Homo sapiens: one gene and its partners. The protein of the gene in region 1 interacts with the protein of each later gene in a pairwise test. Each region holds a gene or a part of one and is shown on either strand. Other genes may lie near its edges.

Evidence for each region. Proteins that work in one complex are often made in the same cells at the same time.
Region 2: the proteins of ZMIZ2 (region 1) and SALL2 interact in binary tests that used the Homo sapiens proteins (3 or more experiments, as listed by UniProt).
Region 3: the proteins of ZMIZ2 (region 1) and CPNE7 interact in binary tests that used the Homo sapiens proteins (3 or more experiments, as listed by UniProt).

What each region holds. Positions count from the first base shown.
Region 1 is NC_000007.14:44,744,021-44,751,852, reverse strand, and holds the start of ZMIZ2 (zinc finger MIZ domain-containing protein 2), read right to left. Parts: upstream 3,007-7,832; 5' UTR 2,862-3,006; intron 2,039-2,861; exon of another isoform or gene 1,873-2,038; intron 948-1,872; exon of another isoform or gene 762-947; intron 1-761. UniProt on the Homo sapiens protein: Increases ligand-dependent transcriptional activity of AR and other nuclear hormone receptors.
Region 2 is NC_000014.9:21,523,347-21,531,351, reverse strand, and holds the start of SALL2 (sal-like protein 2), read left to right. Parts: upstream 1-5,005; 5' UTR 5,006-5,224; coding exon 5,225-5,291; intron 5,292-5,697; coding exon 5,698-8,005. UniProt on the Homo sapiens protein: Probable transcription factor that plays a role in eye development before, during, and after optic fissure closure.
Region 3 is NC_000016.10:89,592,733-89,597,746, reverse strand, and holds the end of CPNE7 (copine-7), read right to left. Parts: exon of another isoform or gene 3,783-5,014; intron 2,381-3,782; coding exon 2,144-2,380; intron 1,917-2,143; coding exon of another isoform or gene 1,823-1,916; intron 1,264-1,822; coding exon 1,126-1,263; coding exon of another isoform or gene 1,109-1,125; 3' UTR 501-1,108; downstream 1-500. UniProt on the Homo sapiens protein: Calcium-dependent phospholipid-binding protein that may play a role in calcium-mediated intracellular processes.

The sequences.
Region 1 (7,832 bases):
GTAACTGGACTACAGGTGTACACCACCATAGTCCATGCCTGGCTAATTTTTGTATTTTTAGTGGAGATGAAGTTTCGCCATGTTGGCCAGGCTGGTCTTGAACTCTTGACCTCAAGTGATCCACCCACCTCGGCCTCCCAAAGTGCTGGGATTAGAGGTGAGCACCACTGTGTCCAGCCAATAATTTCAAAATAAAAAGTTTAATTACAATACAACTGCTACCACCAGCCTTCTGTCTCCGCAGAACTGCTGTGACAATCTTTCCCCACTAGAAAGCTGGTTGGGTTGGCTGGCCACTTTGCTGTCCCAAGAACAGAGAGGGAATCTGGCAGGCAAGCAGATGTGCCCCCTCCCCCGCCCGTGGTCAAAGGCCTCAAAGTGCAGGCAGCACTCTGTGCAGCACTGCCTCATTTTAGGTCACCTAGGGCAGCAGCTCCCCAACTGCAGCACATCAAAACCAGCTCGCAGCTGGTGATGACAGGCTGCCCAGCCCCACCTGAAGTCAGTAGGATGGGCTGGGGCCTAAGCCCAGAATTTCTAACAAGTTTGCAGCTACTGCTGCTGCTGGTCCAGGAACTGTAGTTTGAGAACCTCAGATCTAGGAAATGCAGTGAGCTGGGGAGAAGGAGCACAGGGCAGGTACAAGGAGGGGAGGAGCCCACAGCAGGCTCCTATGTCACATGAGCCTGGGGAATTCCACCCCTGATGGTTCTCTGCTGTGGACAGAGACCACAAAGATTTCCAGTTCCCTCTGAGCTTACTCTTCACTGCACAGGGGGATTTCCTGCCGACCCGAACTCATGCCTCTGGTCTCCTCTCTGAGGACAGTCTCTCTGAAAAGACTTCCAGTCTCCAGGTCTGGTATCCTTGACCCTGTGCCCCTGATGATAGGATAGTGTTCTGCGTTGTGTGTGTGCAGATCCTCTTCTCATCTCCTGGCTTTGAGTCTGGGTTGGGAACAAGCCTGGAGCCTGGAATCTGGATCCCAGATCATGCAAGGCCCATGCCCACCAAGGGTCTTAGTGCCTGGCGCTTTCCTTGTAAACTAACTCCAGCTGGAAGCTAGGACCCCTTGAGAGATGGACAAGGTCAGTCTAGAGGGCCACAAGGCTTTCTCGGGGGTCAGATCACATCTTCCTCTAGACAGAGTTACAGAACTCACTACCCCAGACCTCTCTTCCCCAAATGTCCCAGAGTAGCTGCACCCCCAAGTCTCCTGGTTGACCTCCTGAGCCTTGTTCCATGCCACCTCTCTGCCTGCCTAGTCAGCTAGGAGCAGGACCAGCAAGTGGGCCCTGTGGCAGGCAACGCTTCTCAATAGGTCACACATCAGGACTCACTGTCTCCAAGATTGCAGGGTCAGGATCCAACCCAGGTGACAATGGAGTCAAAGGGTATTGAAGAAATGATGGCTGTGGAATGTTGCAGGAGCGGGGTCCTTGGTAGCAAAAAGTGGGGTACTCACATATACAGGTAGCTGAAAGTCCTGCCCCCTCTACCTGTAAGGCCACAGTACTAAAATGTCTAAGCGTGGGGCTAAGTCAGGATGCAGAGTTCATCAAAAAGTCCAGGAATAAGCAATGGCCCAGGCATGAGACATTTCAGTGAACAGCTGAAGGGACAACCTTAACCTGGCATCAGTTTACAATGTGTAAGATGGATATCTGGTAGCATCCTAGGACTGAGGACACATGACCACCTTCATGTCATCAGCCCTTGGGAGCTCAATCCCAATAATCAGGATGCTCCCCAAACATCTTAGGCCTGTCCTTCAGAAATCTACAACCGGCAACTGTCACCTGCTTGTTCTCTTCATTTACACTTCCAGCTTGTAACTATCCCCTGGGCATGACAAGGGCTAGAGGTCAGTACCTCTGGAAGTTAAGATTCCTTCACTTCTCCTGTTTCCACACTAAGCATCAAGGGATGCCCTCTGGTTCTAGCTTGCCAGAACTTGGTGGTGAGTCTGTGTCCATCCTATCCGTAATCACCACGGTCTCAGACCAAGTCACATGTTCCGTGTGTGTCCCTGTGAAATCTGCGATGACACAAATTAAAGACACCACCATGGATGTTCTGTAATACTGGAAAGAGGGTACCCTAGGGAGAAGGAGAGGCAGAACACTGCAGGGCAGAGGGTCCAGGGAATGGGAGGAGAGACACGGTAGGTGGAGGGGTAAACAAGGCACCGGGTGGGGGTGCCGCGGTGAAGGACACCTGGCACTAGGGAAGACAAGGCACCTCAGGGGAGCAGGGCATCCTCACGCCTGAGCTTCAGTATGTCCAGTTTGGAAAGGGGTGTCCCCATCAAAACTGGCAGCTGGGGGCTGGCCGCTCAGCGTCGTTCAGCCCAGGAGCGGAACAGCTCCTCCGCGAGCAGGTGACGGCCTCAGACGGCCCCCACATCGCCGTGCTGGTGGGCACGTAAGTAGGAGCGGAGGGGCGTACCATGTAGGTGAGACTGCCTGGCCCCAAAGCTAGGAACGATCAGGTTGGAGCGAAGGCCCGGCCAGCCTTCATCGCTCAGGAGAACCCCGAGCGCCGCTTACACCCCTCGGCCAGCCTCCAACAAAGACTCAGGGGAGGGCTGGATGACCCTGACGCCCACGGGGCCGAGCCTGCCCAAGACCACGACGCACGCGTGGCAGGTGCCGGCAGGTGGGCGGCAGAGCCTCTAGCCCCAGCCCAGCTGTGAACCCTACCGTGGCGCCGCAGCGGAACCGGGGCGCCCCGGGCGACCAGCTACACCTGCCTGCCCGCCCGCACCTGCCGGCCCGCACCTGCCGCACCTGCCTGCCCCCGCCGGCCCACACCTGCCTGCTGGCGGCGTTGCCAGGGGCCACCCCCAGGACCCCGCTCACCTCCGCCCGGCCTGGCCCGGCCCCTCGCCGTGGCGGCCCCCGGCCCGCGCCGCTCCATGCGCTCAGCCCGCCCTCCGCGCCGCCCGCCGCCCCGGGGCCGCCGCCACCCGCGCCATCGCGCCGCCGCCCGCTCCGAGGGCACAATGGAGCCGCCGCCGCGCCGCTCATGCATATGCATGACGCCGCGCAGCCGGCCCCGCCTCCCAGGCCAGAGCAGCAGAGCCCCGAGCCGGCGCTCGGGGCGGGGGCGGCCGCGAGCCCGAGCGGCCCAAAGCGGCAGGGTGGGGCCAGGGCCGCAGGTGGCTGGGCGGGCAGGAGACGCAGCCTGATCGCGACCTGCGCCCCCAGCCCCCTCCACACCTTTCTGAACGCGGCGTCGGCAGAGCCACTGCGCTCTTCCTGCTCGCAGTCCGCCGGGAGCGGGGCGGGGCCGGGCGGCGGAGGCGGGGCCAGGACGCCGGGGCGGGGCCGAGTGGAAGGCGGGGCCAAGGTGCCGGGGCGGGGTCGGGAGGAGGAGGCGGATCCAGAGAGCCGGGGTGGGGCCAGGGCTCGGGGCGGGCCCCGGCGGAGGAGGAAAGGAAGAGTGAGTCCTTGCCCTTCCCCCACCCGCCCCGCCCGCGCCCCGCCCGCGCCCCCCCTGCTTCCTGGGAGTCCATTGCTCTGGCCCGGCGGGCGGGGACACGACTGGGAGACAGAGAGACCCAGGGTGCCACTTTTGGGAGGGGATCTTATTAAAGGACTCCGGAAGCCCCTCGTTAAAGCAGAAAACTAAACTTAACAAGTTCGCTGTCCTCACTGCTCAGTTCTCTCTTCCCAGTGGTTCTCCTTCTGGAAAAAGTCACTATTGAGCTAGTCTAGCCTGATGGAATAGCCTCTCTGATCAGTTTCGATCTTTGAAATGCTATTATCAGCCTTTAAGTTATTCTTGACTTTTCCTACCGTAAGTTGAGGAAGACCACATTCTCTCAACTACCCATAATTAATTTTTCTTAATTGTGGTAAAATACACATAACGTAAAACTTACCATCTTAACTGTTTCCAAGTGTAGTTCTGTGGCACCAAGTACATTCACATTCTTGTGCAACCACCAACCGTCTCCAGGACTTTTTCATCTTCTCAAATGGAAACTCCATACCCAGTAAACACTAGCTCCCCATTCTTTCCTCCTCCTAGCCTTTGGCATTCACTATTCGTCTCTAAATTAGACTACTCTAAGGACATCGTATAAGTGGAATCATACATTATATGTCTTTTTGTGACAGTCTTACTTTAGTTAGCACAGTGTCCTCACTTCCATCCATGTTGTGGCATGTGTCAGAATTTCTTTCTTTCTTTCTTTCTTTCTTTCTTTCTTTCTTTCTTTCTTTCTTTCCTTTCTCTCTCTCTTTCTTTCTTTCTTTCTTTCCTTCCTTCTTTCCTTCCTTCTTCCCTCCCCTTCCCTTCCCTTCTTTTTTTTGACGGAGTCTCACTCTGTCGCCAGGCTGGAGTGCAGTGGTGCAATCTCGGCTCACTGCAACCTCCACCTCCCAGGTTCAAGCGATTCCCCTGCCTCAGCCTCCTGAGTAGCTGAGACTACAGGGGCACGCCACCACGCCTGGCTAATTTTTTTGTGTGTGTGTTTTAGTAGAGACGGGGTTCATCATGTTGGCCAGGATGGAATCGATCTCCTGACCTCGTGATCCGCCTGCCTGGGCCTCCCAAAGTGTTGGGATTACAGGCGTGAGCCACGGCGCCCAGCCCCTTCTTTCTTATGGCTGAATAATATTCCATTGTATGCATATTCCACATTTAAGTTATCCATTCATCTATCAATGGATACTCCACAATTAATTTTTGACATTGTTGAAATTTCTTCCCTGAAGGCCGCCTCTGAACTCTGTGCTCTATTTCTTTTGGGAATCATTCGTTCATTGAACAAATATGGCAGGCCTGCTGTACAACAGTCCCTGGTCTGGGGTCTGTGAACACTGGTCTGTCCCCAGGAACCAGGAGAATAAGGCCCCTCCATCCATACAGCAAGCATGTTAGAGGGGACAAACAGAAGGAAATGAGTTAACAGGTAACAGTGTGTCTGTCAGAAAGAGTGTTAGGAAGAAAACTAAATCAGGGCCAGAGAATGGGGAGGGAGTGATGAGGTATGAGGGACGGATTCTCTGTGGAGCTGGCCCTGAAGAAGAGACCCAAATGAAGGGGGAGGCAGGCACCAGGGGACCCTGACCATTCCTCTGTCTCGGAAGAGGCTGCATGTATGGGGGAGTTGCAGGCAGGTTTGTGGAGGATGCTGGAAGTGGCCACGCCAAGCATCCCAGGTGCCCCCAGGGCAGGCATCTCTCTCACCTCCTAACTGCTTCAATAATTCCTGCCCTGCTCCCCTGGGAAAGGCCACCTGGTGTCCACTCCTTTCTAGGGAATGTTTTCATTTTCTACTATATGATGAATTGTTAAGAAAGTCTTCCTTGAGGCCGGGCACAGTGGCTCACGCCTGTAATCCTAGCACTTTTGGAGGCCAAGATGGGTGGATCACCTGAGATCAGGAGTTCGAGACCAGCCTGGCCAACATGGTGAAACCCTGTCTCTACTAAAAAATACAAAAATTAGCCAGGCATGGTGGCGTGAAACCCTACTCTACTAAAAATACAAAAATTAGCCAGGTGTGGTGGCATGCACCTGTATTCCCAGCTATTCGGGAGGCGGAGGCAGGAGAATCGCTTGAACCCGAGAGGCAGAGGTTGCAGTGAGCTGAGATCGCACCACTGCACTCCACCGTGGGTGACAGAGCGAGACTCTATCCCCCCACCATCACCCCCCCAAAAAAAAAAGTTGCCTGGCGCGGTGGCTCACGCCTGTAATCCCAGCACTTTGGGAGGCCGAGGCAGGCAGATCACGTGAGGTCAGGAGTTCGAGACCAGCCTGGCCAACATGGTGAAACCCTGTCTCTACTAAAAGTACAAAAATTAGCCGGGCATGGTGGTGTGTACCTGTAGTCCCAGCTACTCGGGAGGCTGAGGCAGGAGAATTGCTGAACCCGGGAGGTGGAGGTTGCAGTGAGCCGAGATCACACCACTGCACTCCAGCCTGGACGACAGAGTGAGATTCTGTCTCAAAAAAAAAAAAAAAAGTCTTCCTCATTTACTAGAATAAAAAAACTGCCTTATTGAAGCTTTTCCTCTACAAGTGCATAAAATAAGAATCATCACTTTGTTATTTGACAGCTCTTCAAATATTAAAAGCAACTTCTCAATCCCCCAGTCTTCTGTTGGAGGAATAATGCTCCCAGTTCCTTAAGTGTTAACAGTAACACAATTTTCAGATCCTGTACCAACTGGCCACTCTCCTTTAGACAGGCACCAGTTAGACAATATCGCTTTTAAAATGTGACACCAGAAAGGGAACCTGATATCCTAAATGTAATCAGCCTAGCCCAGCGTCCAGGGGCTCCTGCGAGTCCACAGTCTCCTACAGTTGGTGTGGCCTTAACCTGAATTTGGTTTTTAACCAGTTTGGGTACCCCCAGTTACTATGACTCTTGACTTGCAAAACTAACTTTAAAAAGAAAAAGGTAGGCCGGGCGCAGTGGCTCACGCCTGTAATCCCAGCACTTTGGGAGGCCGAGGTGGGCGGATCACGAGGTCAGGAGATCGAGACCATCCTGGCTAACATGGTGAAACCCTGTCTCTACTAAAAATACAAAACATTAGCCAGGCATGGTGGCGGGCCCTGTAGCCACAGCTACCTGGGAGGCTGAGGCAGGAGAATGGCGTGAACCCAGGAGGTGGAGCTTGCAGTCAGCGAAGATCACGCCACTGCACTCCAGCCTGGGCGACAGAGCGAGACTCCATCTCAAAAAAAAAAAAAAAAGAGAAAGGTGCTGCTGCTCCTTTGCATACAAGCGGTATATTCTCATTGTGGAAAATACAGAGAAATGTTCAAAATACCTTAAAACTGTTCAGAGATAATTCCAGTCAATTGTTTGCTCTGTTTTTTTCCCAGATGGTTCTCTTTGCATATCTTGATGTTGTGGAGAATATGGCATATGTATGATTTTGCATTCTTATTTTTTCACATTATCAACATAAACATTTCCCTTACAAGCATTATCTGTGTTTCTCACAAAATAAATACTTCAAAGATTTATTTACAAGGATGTTTGCTGTGACATTAGGATATTGAAAAATTACACACAAGCTGTATTCATTCATTCAACAATTTTCTGTTGAGCTTCTACTGTGTGCCAGATACCACTCTCAGTGCTGGAAACATGGCAGTAAGTAAAACTGATGAAAATCTGCATTGTCGTGGAGCTTGTGTTAGCAAGCTAATAGTTACATCCTAGTAGGTAATAGTTAAGTAGAACGCACCCACAGGTTGGAAATCATGTTTTTGAAGAATATTTAATGGTATGAGCAGACAGTCACAATTTGCTAACTGAAAACATCATACAAAGTTGCACAATGCCAACATCTTTGTTTCCTGAAAAGCCTTTACGGAGCACACAGTCTTCCCACAGGCCTCTAATTCATTATACGGGGAGAAAGGAACCTTTATAATAACATTGGTCAGACACTACCTTAGCAAAATGACCAAGGTCAACAACACCAACAGTGGGACCATTTGACATCCTGGGTACCTGATGTGATACTCAGAGAAAAGATACAGACTCCTTCAAGTAGAATTTCCAGCCAGAAATGTTCAACCTGAATCTGATCATGAAAAAATAAGACAGATCTACACAAAGGCTCAGTCTCCAGCACTGTCTGTGACTCTCAGAGAACGTCAGGCCTGGGGAAATGGTCTCATTTCTCGGTAAGCAGGTCTGTGCAAGCCTGCCCCTAAAGTCGGAGGAAGCTAAGAGGTTAAAGAAAGAGGCTGACAAATTCAGTTTCTCCAAAAGAAACATTTAATAGGAACTCATGAGCTGAAGCCCTGTCTGTGTATCAGGGGCTTACATGGGATAGGGAAAGGGTGACCCT
Region 2 (8,005 bases), on another chromosome or scaffold:
TAGAGCTGGGACTTTAACTCAGGTCTGAATCACTGTGCACAATGACAATGAGAGTGTCAGATCTCTGAAGTCCCAGCTCCAAAATGGTATGAATTCCATGTTAAGTGTTGAGTCCTTTGAAGTCAAAGAAATTTTCATTAAAAGAACATTCTTATGTTTGATCTAAGATATTCCTGTTCTGGAAACAAATATCTTTTTCTCACTTAGCACCAGGTGTACCAATCATTGTGCCTGTTAGTCTACTGTGTTACATAGGCCATAGTTACATTAGTAGGTCTGGGTTGCAAAGGATTATTATGTGTCTACATTTAGGAAAGAGGAGTAAGGAGGAGAAGATGAGATATTTCCCTAAGAAGTAGTCAGTAGCAATAGTTACAGAATCAATTCATAATTATGGAAGCTACCAATTAGCATTGTTCAGTGTCAATAATAAGTAAGTGGGCCAGAGGCAGTGGCTTACATCTGTACTCTCAGCACTTTGTGGGGACAAGGCAGGAGGATCCCTTGAGCCCAGGTATTCCAGACAGCCTGGGCAACATAGTGAAACCTCATCTCTACAGAAAAAAATATTTTAATTAGCTGGGCATGATTGTGCATGCCTGTAGTCCCAGCTATTCAGGAAGCTGAGGTGGGAGGATCACCTAAGCCTGGGAGGTAGAGTCTGCAGTGAGCTATGATTGTGCCACTTCACTCCAGCCTTAATGGGTGGATGATGCTTGAACTCTGTAGAACAAAGCCTTTCACCTTACAATTAGAAATATGGTGGCCGGGCGCGATGGCTCACGCCTGTAATCCCAACACTTTGGGAGGCCGAGGTTGGCAGATCACCTGAGGTCGGGAGTTTGAGACCAGCCTGACCCACATGGAGAAACCCCATCTCTACTAAAAATACAAAATTAGCCGGGCTTGGTGGCACATGCCTGTAATCCCAGCTACTTGGGAAGGCTGAGGCAGGAGAATCGCTTGAACCTGGGAGGTGGAGGTTGCGGTGAGCCGAGATCATGCCATTGCACTCCAGCCTGGGCAATGAGAGCAAAACTCCGTCTCAAAAAAAAAAAAAAAAAAAAAAAGAAAGAAAAAAAAAGAAATATGGCTCAAATATCAATTAAAAAAGAAAAAAATATGCTTCAAGATACCCATACCTGGGAAAGAAATGCAATCACTTAAACTTACAGTAAGGTGTAAATTATATCAAATTCTATTCATGGAAGCAGATTTTTCACTGGGAAAGGATACAAGGAAGTTAATGTGTGGTTGTGGGCACTGTAGGGAGGGGACCTGATGGGAAGATTTAGCATTGAGAGTTCATTTTGTCTGTGTCCCAATTGTGGCCAAGTTTAGCTCAGGTAAGATCTGTGAGGAGCAGGGTGGAAGGTATGATGGAAAGGGCAGTCCTCCATGTGGGTCTCATCATTGTGTCACCATCTTTGTATTCTCATTGGAATCACCTGAGGAGCTTTATCAAACTAATGCCTGGATCCTATCCTCAGGGATTATGAATTAATTAGCCTGGGATGTGGCCTGGACACAGGGATTTTTTTTAAGTTTGGTTGGTTGGTTGCTTTTGCAGAGATGGGGGTCTCACTATGTTATGCAGGCTGGTCTCAAATTCCTGGCCTCAAGCAATCCTCCTGCCTTGGCCTCCAAAAGTGCTAGGATTATAGGCATGAGGTACCCACTGTGCTTAAACTTTCTTTTCTTTTTTTTTTCTTCTTTTTTTTGAGATTTTGAGATGGAGTCTCAAACCCTTGAGCTCAAGTGATCCTCCCGCCTCAGCCTCCAGAGTAGCTGGGACTACAAGGAACAGACCACTGCACCTAAACATAAAAATTTTAAAACTCTCTTCTGGTAATCCTAATGGGCAGCAAAATTTGAAAACCGCTGTTCAAATGTATCACCCTGCTACATACAACTCACCTATTTTTCTCTTTGTTCTCCCGAACAGTTCTCTCTGAAGCCTAAAGAAGCAATCTGATGGGACACTAGATTTAGAAGGGAAGCCACCTGGTTTCCCTTTTCTTTGTCATTTCAGCTCTCTATAAGTTTAAACAAGCTTGTCCAGGTCTTAGTCCCACCCCGGACTTTGCATTTGACCGGAGATAGCTTACCTCACCTTATCTGCTATCTAGGGACACCATTACCAGTTTAGTTTATTCCTGCATTTGTGACTTCATTCATGTTTGTGTAAGAATCCTGCCCCCCTTTTCAGGATGTGCAGTGAGTGCAAAGTACTGAGAAATGGAGGGTTCCTCTTACAGGTGGCTGTTGATCCAGTCACCTTTCACCAGGGACTAAATTTACCTTAAAGAAGAGCTTAGATCAAATTACGCATCAGAAAGCACATTTCATTAAAGAGCAAGAAAGGGGACAGTGTTTCCCAGGAGAAGATGAAAAGAAAAGGATTTCTTTTCTTGTCAGAAGACTTGACAAAACAGCAACTGGATATCAAATGTTCAATGCTAATTAACAAATGCTCAGTAGAAAGCCTCCATCTGATTCCCTCTCCCTGACTAAGGCCAGGGAGCAAATGGCAGGTAGAAGCCACACAGGGCCCTTTCTCTAGCATTAGGGAAGCCATACAAAGTTGATGTGCTTGAGAAAGCATTGGACAGGAGTCAAAATTCTGAATGCTTGCTTCACTGAATTACTGTGTGAACTTGGAAAAGTCACTTAACCTCTCCAAGCTTCAGTTTCCTTATCTGTAAAAATAAACCACATTGCACAAAACTGTGACTTGCCATAAACTGAAATAGAACCCCCCTCCCTCATTTGTAAGTCCAGGCCTGGAAGCACAGAACCCGTCCATTTCAGAATTATGACTCACAATGCTAAGAGCCTTATTATCTGAAGTTTCAAAACATAATTCAGTAAACTGTTTTAAGTTTAAAAACACAGGCAAAATTTATGTTGAGAAGTAAAGTGGATGTTACTAATATTTTAAATAGGTTGTTTCAGCTCCCCCACCCACTGCAATAAAAGACTTCCTACCTTTGAAATATGCTGCTGATATTAGCCAATATCTTACCTCAGAAATTAATAAGATTAACAAACAACATGGAAAACAGATCTAATTTTAGTATATGTGTATTTAAGGTTACTTCGATTATTTTGCTACTGACAATGTAAATTATCTCATTGATTAAATTCAGGACTCCCCAAACTTTAAAAATCTCACATGTACATATTAATTTTTTTAGACTTTTTTTTTTTTTTGAGACGCAGTTTCACTCTTGTTGCCCAGGCTGGAGTGCAATGCCACGATCTCAGCCCCCTGCAACCTCCACCTCCTGGGTTCAAGCCATTCTCCTGGCTCAGCTGCCCCAGTAGCTGGGATTAAAGGTGTACCATCATGCCCAGCTAATTTTTGTATTTTTAGTAGAGACGGGGTTTCAACATGTTGGCCATGCTGGTCTGGAACTTCTGACCTCGTGATCTGCCCACCTCCCAAAGTGCTGGGATTACAGTGAGCCACCGCGCCCGGCTTTTTTTTTTTTTTAAAGTAATGGGGCCTCACTATGTTGCCGAAGCTGGAGGGCAGTGGTTATTCACAGGTGTGATCACAGCTCACTGCAGCCTCAAACTCCTGGACTAAAGCAATTCTCCTGCCTCAGCCTCCCAAGTAGCTGGGGCTACAAGTGTGCACCACCATACCTGGTTTACACATTAATATTGTCCAATTTTTCAATTTTTTGTCCCCACAATATTTTTCTGAGTAAAATACTGCAGCTACAATATTACCACTTTATGAAGAGGGAAACGGTGGTATAACATGGTGTGACTGACCACCATGTCTCAGTTTTATCAGTGAGGCAAGAATAGAACTGGGATTAAAACAATTTAGGTTTACTGATGCCCAGGGAAACCACAAAACCAAGGACTTGTGGTCACTTCCTGCATGTAAGAGAAAGTATTTTAGGAAGTGGGAAGCACTTTAAGACTCATTTCAAGGTAAAAAAGAGAATGCCAGAATACCTGGTCCAGGAGGCATTTTATTCTTACTTATCCTGTCTGAATAGGAGGCTGCCTCTGTGATGGTGAGCAGGTGTTAGCTATTTCTAAGCATTCAAATCAGGCTGGGGCTGAAAGGGCTTTAGACACTGAGGGCTGCCTGGTAGTTCCTACCGCATTGTTTCAAGAGGGCTCCCCTCCCCCCCAGGTTAGAGCTGGGTGGGCCTCCGTAGGCCTCTGCAGGCTAGCGTCTCCCCAAACCCACTGTCTTTAATAGTGACGGTGTGAGGAATGTTGCAAGAGGAGAATAGAGGAGGAAGAGGGTACTAAATAGGAGATGGCTTATTAAATAAGCATGGACTCTATGAATTAGGTGTTGTGTAGGCTGGGCGATCTGCGGAGTAACCTGCATTCAGCTATTATTCAGGGGGAGGAGGGGCGGGGAGTGAAGGGGCTTAGTGTTCCGCAGAGAGTCCTGAAATGACTTCCTGGGAAATTCTACCTTGCAGCCGCCCACCCTGAGAAACTTCTTTTGTGGAGAGGGATGGGGGTAGGGTGGGAATGGAAGTGAGAAAGACGAGACAAAACTTCGAATATTTTGGGGTGTGTGTGCTGGTGAGGAGTGGATGTTCTGATCTCCCCCTCTTCTTCTGGCCCTCAGACCTCTGAGGAGATCAGACGACCCTCTCTGGAATCCACTTTTTCCAAGCTCAGCGGATCCTTTATCCAAAGAAAAATAAGAGAAGCCTATCGCCTTGCTCCACTGAGCAGGGCTACGTTTCCCACTGTGCCCCTAGAGCTTAGGAGGGGAGGGCGGGGGGAGGAGGGTAGGCCTGGGCAAAGGCATCTGCAGATGGGGGGAGCTGGCCAGGGACCGGGAAAGGTGGACCCCCGCAGTGCTTCACAGCACCTGTCACTGCGCCTCCGGAAACTCTCCCGAGCTCTGAGCTCCCGCCCCCACGCCCCCGCTAGCGCTCCCTTCTCCCGCCTCCTCTAGCTCCCGCCTCCCTCCCCAGCAGCTCCTCCCCATAAACTCCCCTCCTCATCAGCTCCTCCCAGATCTCCCCTCTCCCCGCTTTCTCACTCCAGCTTCTCCCCGCCTCCTCGCTCCCCTCCCCCTCCGCCGCTGCTCCCTGCCCCCGCCGCTGCCGATCTCCATCTCCGCAGTCTGGGCCGCTGGGTGCAGAGGCTGCCGCAGACCCAGCGGCCATCGCCTCCCTCAATCCCAATATCCATTGTCTCCCACCCCACCTGGCCCTCCACTTCCCCCACAACCATGGCGCACGAATCCGAGAGGAGCTCTCGTCTCGGGGTGCCCTGCGGGGAGCCGGCAGAGCTCGGAGGTGCGGTAGGGTCGGTCGGGCTGGGCAGGGGTGGGGGCGGAGGGGGATGCGCAGGGGCGGCGAAGACTTTCGGTGGGTGGGAGAAAATGCATGATTCTCTGCGTAGGCCCCTGTCCCCACACCTATTCCGTGAACTCGCTTGTGGCCTGGGGAAGGGAGGGTGGCTGAGGAGGGGAGTAGCATGCTCTTGCCCCCCTCCCCTCCTCCCTCCCCACCCCCCTGCCCCATGCCGGGTTGTCTCCTGTCCACACGGATCAGGCCTGAGCTCTAGACTTCTGCATGGCCCTGATGGTGAGCTCATCTCCCCACCCCCAACTAGCGGTTACTGGCCTCCTTGTTAATTAGAGCCTCGGTATACCCAACCCAACTGCGCCACCCACGCTCTCTCTCCTTGTCTTCTCCCCAGGTGATGCTAGCGAGGAGGATCACCCCCAAGTCTGTGCCAAGTGCTGCGCACAATTCACTGACCCAACTGAATTCCTCGCCCACCAGAACGCATGTTCTACTGACCCTCCTGTAATGGTGATAATTGGGGGCCAGGAGAACCCCAACAACTCTTCGGCCTCCTCTGAACCCCGGCCTGAGGGTCACAATAATCCTCAGGTCATGGACACAGAGCATAGCAACCCCCCAGATTCTGGGTCCTCCGTGCCCACGGATCCCACCTGGGGCCCAGAGAGGAGAGGAGAGGAGTCTTCAGGGCATTTCCTGGTCGCTGCCACAGGTACAGCGGCTGGGGGAGGCGGGGGCCTGATCTTGGCCAGTCCCAAGCTGGGAGCAACCCCATTACCTCCAGAATCGACCCCTGCACCCCCTCCTCCTCCACCACCCCCTCCGCCCCCAGGGGTAGGCAGTGGCCACTTGAATATCCCCCTGATCTTGGAAGAGCTACGGGTGCTGCAGCAGCGGCAGATCCATCAGATGCAGATGACTGAGCAAATCTGCAGGCAGGTGCTGTTGCTTGGCTCCTTAGGCCAGACGGTGGGTGCCCCTGCCAGTCCCTCAGAGCTACCTGGGACAGGGACTGCCTCTTCCACCAAGCCCCTACTACCCCTCTTCAGCCCCATCAAGCCTGTCCAAACCAGCAAGACACTGGCATCTTCCTCCTCCTCCTCCTCTTCCTCTTCAGGGGCAGAAACGCCCAAGCAGGCCTTCTTCCACCTTTACCACCCACTGGGGTCACAGCATCCTTTCTCTGCTGGAGGGGTTGGGCGAAGCCACAAACCCACCCCTGCCCCTTCCCCAGCCTTGCCAGGCAGCACAGATCAGCTGATTGCCTCGCCTCATCTGGCATTCCCAAGCACCACGGGACTACTGGCAGCACAGTGTCTTGGGGCAGCCCGAGGCCTTGAGGCCACTGCCTCCCCAGGGCTCCTGAAGCCAAAGAATGGAAGTGGTGAGCTGAGCTACGGAGAAGTGATGGGTCCCTTGGAGAAGCCTGGTGGAAGGCACAAATGCCGCTTCTGTGCCAAAGTATTTGGCAGTGACAGTGCCCTGCAGATCCACCTTCGTTCCCACACGGGTGAGAGGCCCTATAAGTGCAATGTCTGTGGAAACCGTTTTACCACCCGTGGCAACCTCAAAGTGCATTTCCACCGGCATCGTGAGAAGTACCCACATGTGCAGATGAACCCACACCCAGTACCAGAGCACCTAGACTATGTCATTACCAGCAGTGGCTTGCCTTATGGTATGTCCGTGCCACCAGAGAAGGCCGAGGAGGAGGCAGCCACTCCAGGTGGAGGGGTTGAGCGCAAGCCTCTGGTGGCCTCCACAACAGCACTCAGTGCCACAGAGAGCCTGACTCTGCTCTCCACCAGTGCAGGCACAGCCACGGCTCCAGGACTCCCTGCTTTCAATAAGTTTGTGCTCATGAAAGCAGTGGAACCCAAGAATAAAGCTGATGAAAACACCCCCCCAGGGAGTGAGGGCTCAGCCATCAGTGGAGTGGCAGAAAGTAGCACGGCAACTCGCATGCAACTAAGTAAGTTGGTGACTTCACTACCAAGCTGGGCACTGCTTACCAACCACTTCAAGTCCACTGGCAGCTTCCCCTTCCCCTATGTGCTAGAGCCCTTGGGGGCCTCACCCTCTGAGACATCAAAGCTGCAGCAACTGGTAGAAAAGATTGACCGGCAAGGAGCTGTGGCGGTGACCTCAGCTGCCTCAGGAGCCCCCACCACCTCTGCCCCTGCACCTTCATCCTCAGCCTCTTCTGGACCTAACCAGTGTGTCATCTGTCTCCGAGTGCTTAGCTGTCCTCGGGCCCTACGCCTTCATTATGGCCAACATGGAGGTGAGAGGCCCTTCAAATGCAAAGTGTGTGGCAGAGCCTTCTCCACCAGGGGTAATCTGCGTGCACATTTCGTGGGCCACAAGGCCAGTCCAGCTGCCCGGGCACAGAATTCCTGCCCCATCTGCCAGAAGAAGTTCACCAATGCTGTCACTCTGCAGCAGCATGTCCGGATGCACCTGGGGGGCCAGATCCCCAACGGTGGTACTGCACTCCCTGAAGGTGGAGGAGCTGCTCAGGAGAATGGCTCCGAGCAATCTACAGTCTCCGGGGCACGGAGTTTCCCCCAGCAGCAGTCCCAGCAGCCATCACCGGAAGAGGAGTTGTCTGAGGAGGAGGAAGAGGAGGATGAGGAAGAAGAGGAAGATGTGACTGATGAAGATTCCCTGGCAGGGAGAGGCTCAGAGAGTGGAGGTGAGAA
Region 3 (5,014 bases), on another chromosome or scaffold:
CGATGGGTGGACGGATGGGTGGGTGGATGGACCGATGTGGGGATGGGTGGGCCTGGATTCAGGGTTAGGACAATTTGTTTTTCTCAGGCAAGATCATTCAGGGGAAATCTCAAACTCAGGGCGAGGAGGTCCCAGCAGGTGGGAGATGCCCCGGCTCCACGAACATCACATGGAGGCTTCACCCTCCAGCCCAGCTCCCTGCGGTGCAGGCCATGTGGGAGGCTCCTGGCACCCCTGCATCACGTCCACAGTCCTCACTCACTGGGTTTCAGGCCTGGGAGTCCCAGGAAGCCGAGTGGAGCTCCTTCGCGGGTGGAGGCAGCCATGGTGCGGATCCCCGCTCTCTGCCCCTGGCAGCCTGTGCATCCCGCATCCCATTCAGTCCAGGGAGGATCCTGGTGTGCTGGGCCTGGGAGAGCCCCTGCCTCAGATGTGGGCACTTTGGAAGCCAGGCCCAGCCCTCTGGGGGGTTGGGGAAGGGACTGAAGGCACAAGAGAACTACAAGGATAGGGTGACACTTTATTACTCCTGAAGCCCCACCGGCAGAACCCACAGGCCAGGCAGACCCCGCAGACCCCGCAGACCCCATGGACCCAGGTGCAGAGGCCCGACGGCAAAAAGCACAGGGTAGGTGGGTGTGGGGGCACCAGCAGGGACAGGAGGCTGACTGTGGGGACAGGATGTCTGGGTCCCCAGGCTTTGACTGTGGGGACAGGTGTCTGGGTCCCCCAGGCTTTCTCGGGCGTGGGGGGACTGCCTTGCTGGCCCTCCCCCACAAAGGTTAGACGCAAAGCAGAGCCCCCAGTCCCTGCCCCTTCTCATCGGGGCAGGGTCTCCCGTGGATGAACTCCCAGCTCCCTCCAAGTCCCTCATGATCTCCCTCCCTCCACCCACCTGGCTCAGGCAGGGCCAGGCATGGGGGCCTGTATTTTGTCACCCTTCGGCCTTGGGGGCCCCAGAGCCGGGCCCAAGCCAGCAGGATCCCAGGAGGACTGGGAGTGGGGCCTGGTGGGGACTGGAGGCTTCTGGGAGGTCGGAGGGAGCTTAAGGGACCCCAAGCATGTTGCAGACAGAGGCTGTACGGACCCATTCCTCACTGCCCCCACCCTACGCCCTCCACATCTTCACGGTGTGCAGCCTGGGCTGGCCTCTCCGGCAGGGACACCCAGGCTTCTCGGGGGCAGGCCTCTGTGGCTGTAGTACTCCACCACCTGCTTCGGGACCTCGGCCAGCACGCACTTGGCCAGCGCCGCAGGGGATGCCTGGAGGATGGGACAACGCAGTTACCTCTGGGACCTTCGAGATGGAGATCATCCGTCCCTGCAACTGGATTATGGCCCAGGCCTCATCCTCCAGAGCCGAGTGGTGACTACCCACCCCCACCAGAGGCTCACCTGGGTGCCGGGCAAGACTTGCTGAGGATGTCGGCCACATGAGGCTGCACGTGGGTCTTTCCAGCCCCCCAAGCACGGAGATGAAAAGTGCTGACACGGGAGGCGAGGCCACCTCCATGGTCCAGGCCCCACCCACACTTCCCCGGCAAAGCCTGAGCGTGTCTGTGTGATGTGACTCACTGCAGAGCTTCATGTGTCTGTAATATGCATGTTTCACTGCGTAGAATGTCACGTGTCCGTGTCTTCATGCATGTCTGTGGTGTCTTGCTGTGTAGAACTTCACATCTATGTGGCATGCACGTCTTGCTGTAGGGCCTCATGTGTGACATGTGTGTCTTGCCTGGTAGAACCTCACGTGTGTGCTGTGCGTCTCACCGGGTAGAACCTCACGTGTGTGCTGTGTGTGTCTCGGCGGGTAGAACCTCACGTGTGTGCTGTGCGTGTCTCGCCGGGTCGCAGAGGTTGGCAGCAACGGGGGAAGCCGCGTGGTGGATCCCAGGAGCCCCTTGTGCTGTTCTCTGCTTTTGTGTAGATTCGACAAGTTTCAAAACGGTGGAGGGTGTTTCAGGTGCTCAAAGTCCTGGCTTCAGATACTGCTCTTGACTGGGGGGAACAGCCCAGGATCCCCCAGACACAAGAAGGGACCTGCCACATCCACTGGCGTGAGCCTGGCCTGGGAAGGTCTTGGGCAGTGACATGAACAGGGACCCCCAAGCCGGCCTTGACGGAGCCCCTCCAGGACACTCACGTTCTTGAGCTCCCGGAAGGGCACGAACTGTACGATGTCCCGGAGCGCGGGCTCACCCCGTGGGGAGCGCAGGACGCCGTCGTCGCCGTCCAGGACCTGCATGTCGGTGAAGTCGGCGTTGCCCACGCCCACGATGATGATGGACATGGGCAGGCGTGAGGCACGCACAATGGCCTCCCGTGTGTCGGCCATGTCGGTCACCACGCCGTCCGTCAGGATCAGCAGGATGTAGTATTGCTGGGGGCACAGGAAAGGCATCAGCAACACCACACCTGCCATGGCCCACATGCGCCCTGCAACCCACGGGCCCCCAGACAGCCCAGAGTGCCTCCGTGCGTCAGAGCTTCCTAGAACCGCCTTCAGAGTGTGATGCCTACATCACAAACATCACGAACAACAGTGGGTCAGGAGCCCCCTCCGTGGCGGGCACTCTGGGCCTCCTGTGCCCAGCTCAGGAAATCTCCACGAGTCTCACGGAGGGCTGTGGAGGGGGTGCTACGAAGTCTACATTTTACTGATGAGCTCACAGTGCCTGGATGGGAGGTCTGAGGCCAGAGGAGAAATCTGCGATCCCAGGAGCCAGACCTGCAGCCCACACACCCTGCTCCAGTCTCTCCAGGGTGCCCGCTGTGCTGCCACAAGACTGAGTGTTGGCCGGACGCGGTGGTTCACGCCTGTAATCTCAGCACTTTGGGAGGCCGAGGCGGGCGGATCACCTGAGGTCAGGAGTTCGAGACCAGCCTGGCCAAAATGGTGAAACCCCATCTCTACTAAAAATACAAAAACTAGCTGGGCGTGGTGGTGGGCGCCTGTAATCCCAGCTATTCGGGAGGCTGAGGCATGAGAATCGCTTGAACTTGGGAGGCAGAGGGTGCAGTGAGCTGAGATCGCGCCATTGCACTTCAGCCTGGCGATAGAGTGAGACTGTCTCCAAAAAAAAAAAAAAAAAAAAAAAAAAAAAGGCAGAATGGAACTTCAAATAAAATCAACTTCCATTGTTTAAAAAAAACCCCACTCAATAATCTTGCCCAAACTGTGGACAACGGGAAACATAAAGAGAAGCAGGGCTCGCCTGAGCAGCAGAGCGGGAGCCCACAGCAGCCTCCCCTGGGCTGGCCTTGACTGAGCCCGTCCCACTGAGGGCAGATGTGTCCTGGAAACGAACAGGGGCCCCAGGACCCCACTCAGAGTCGCCTTCTCCAAGAGGCTCTCTTTTTGTGCCCTCCCCATCTCCCCCTCTCTGAGCCCCACACCTGTGGGAAGAATTACCTGTTTGCAAGGCAGTCTCTGGTCCAGGCCTACAAGCACCCACGGCTGTGCCCAGCCTGGCTCTCGGCCTCCAGATAAACAGCCCAGCCTCAGAAAGCCCCCCACCCCCTCCCAACCCCAGATGAGGCCCCCACCCCCCTCTGCCAACTGTGCGAGCACCAGGCACCAAAACCCACCGTGGGGCCCCACTAGGGCGGGAGCTTCGTGTCCAGGAGAGGGACCGAGGGCTCAGCTGATCATGTCTGAGTCCTCGTTTCAACCCAATTCTAACCACAGAAAACCATGTCACGGGTAAGACAACAGGAAACACAAACACCAGACGGATGTGCAATGCCAGGAGTGGTGGTTAGGTGTGATCAGGTGTCGTGGCTGCTTAAAAAGAGGCTTATCTTTATTAGACGCTGATACTGACATTTACAGATGAAACCGTCTGAGACCCGCTTCCCAGCCACACAGGAACATAACAGCTGAACGCAATCCTCGACTCCGGACTGGCTCCTGGGCCAGGAACAATACTGCTTTGAAAGTTATGATTGTGCCAATGAATGAAATTGGAATATAGTCTATGTATTAGATAAAAGGATTGTATCTAAATTCAATTTCCTGAAATCTGTATTTGTGCTATGGTTATACAAGAGAATATCTTTGATCTTAGGAAATATACACTGAAATAGTAAGAGGTAGGCCGGGCGCGGTGGCTCACGCCTGTAATCCCAGCACTTTGGGAGGCCGAGGTGGGCGGATCACGAGGTCAGGAGATCGAGACCATCCTGGCTAACACAGTGAAACCCCGTCTCTACTAAAAATACAAAAAATTAGCCGGGCGTGGTGGCGGGCGCCTGTAGTCCCAGCTATTTGGGAGGCTGAGGCAGGAGAATGGCGTGAACCCGGGAGGCGGAGCTTGCAGTGAACCAAGATCGCGCCACTGCACTCCAGCCTGGGTGAAGAGCGAGACTCCATCTCAAAAAAAAAAAAATATTAAGAGGTAAAACCGTGATGTTGCAACGTGCTCTCGGACGGTTCACAAATGTGTGTGTGCAGTGCCAAGTTTTTTAAAAAGCATCAAAGTCTTTATCACGATACTATCTGTATAAATTAAAAATAGATGCAAACAGATATAGGGTTCCCATTTGGCTTGAAGATGTAAGTAGACGGGTGATGTTTGATCATCATGAATGTACCTCGTGCCTCTGAACTGGATACAATAAAATGGTTACAGGCCAGGTGCGGCGGCTCACACCTGTAATCCCATCCCAGCACTTTGGGAGGCTGAGGCAGGCAGATCACTTGAGGTCAGGAGTTTGAGACCAGCCTGGCCAAGACAGTGAAACCCCATCTCTACAAAAATATAAAAATTAGCCGGGTATGGTGGCGGGCGCCTGTACTCCCAGCTACTCAGGAGGCTGAGTCAGGAGAATGGCGTGAACCCGGGAGGCGGAGCTTGCAGTGAGCCGAGATCACGTCACTGCACTCCAGCCTGGGTGACAAGAGTAAAACTCCATCTCAAAAAAAAAAAAAAAAAAAGAAAAGAAAAAAATGGTTACAATGGTAAATTTTAAACTGTGCATATTTTATCACAATAAAAAAAATTTGGGCTGGGCG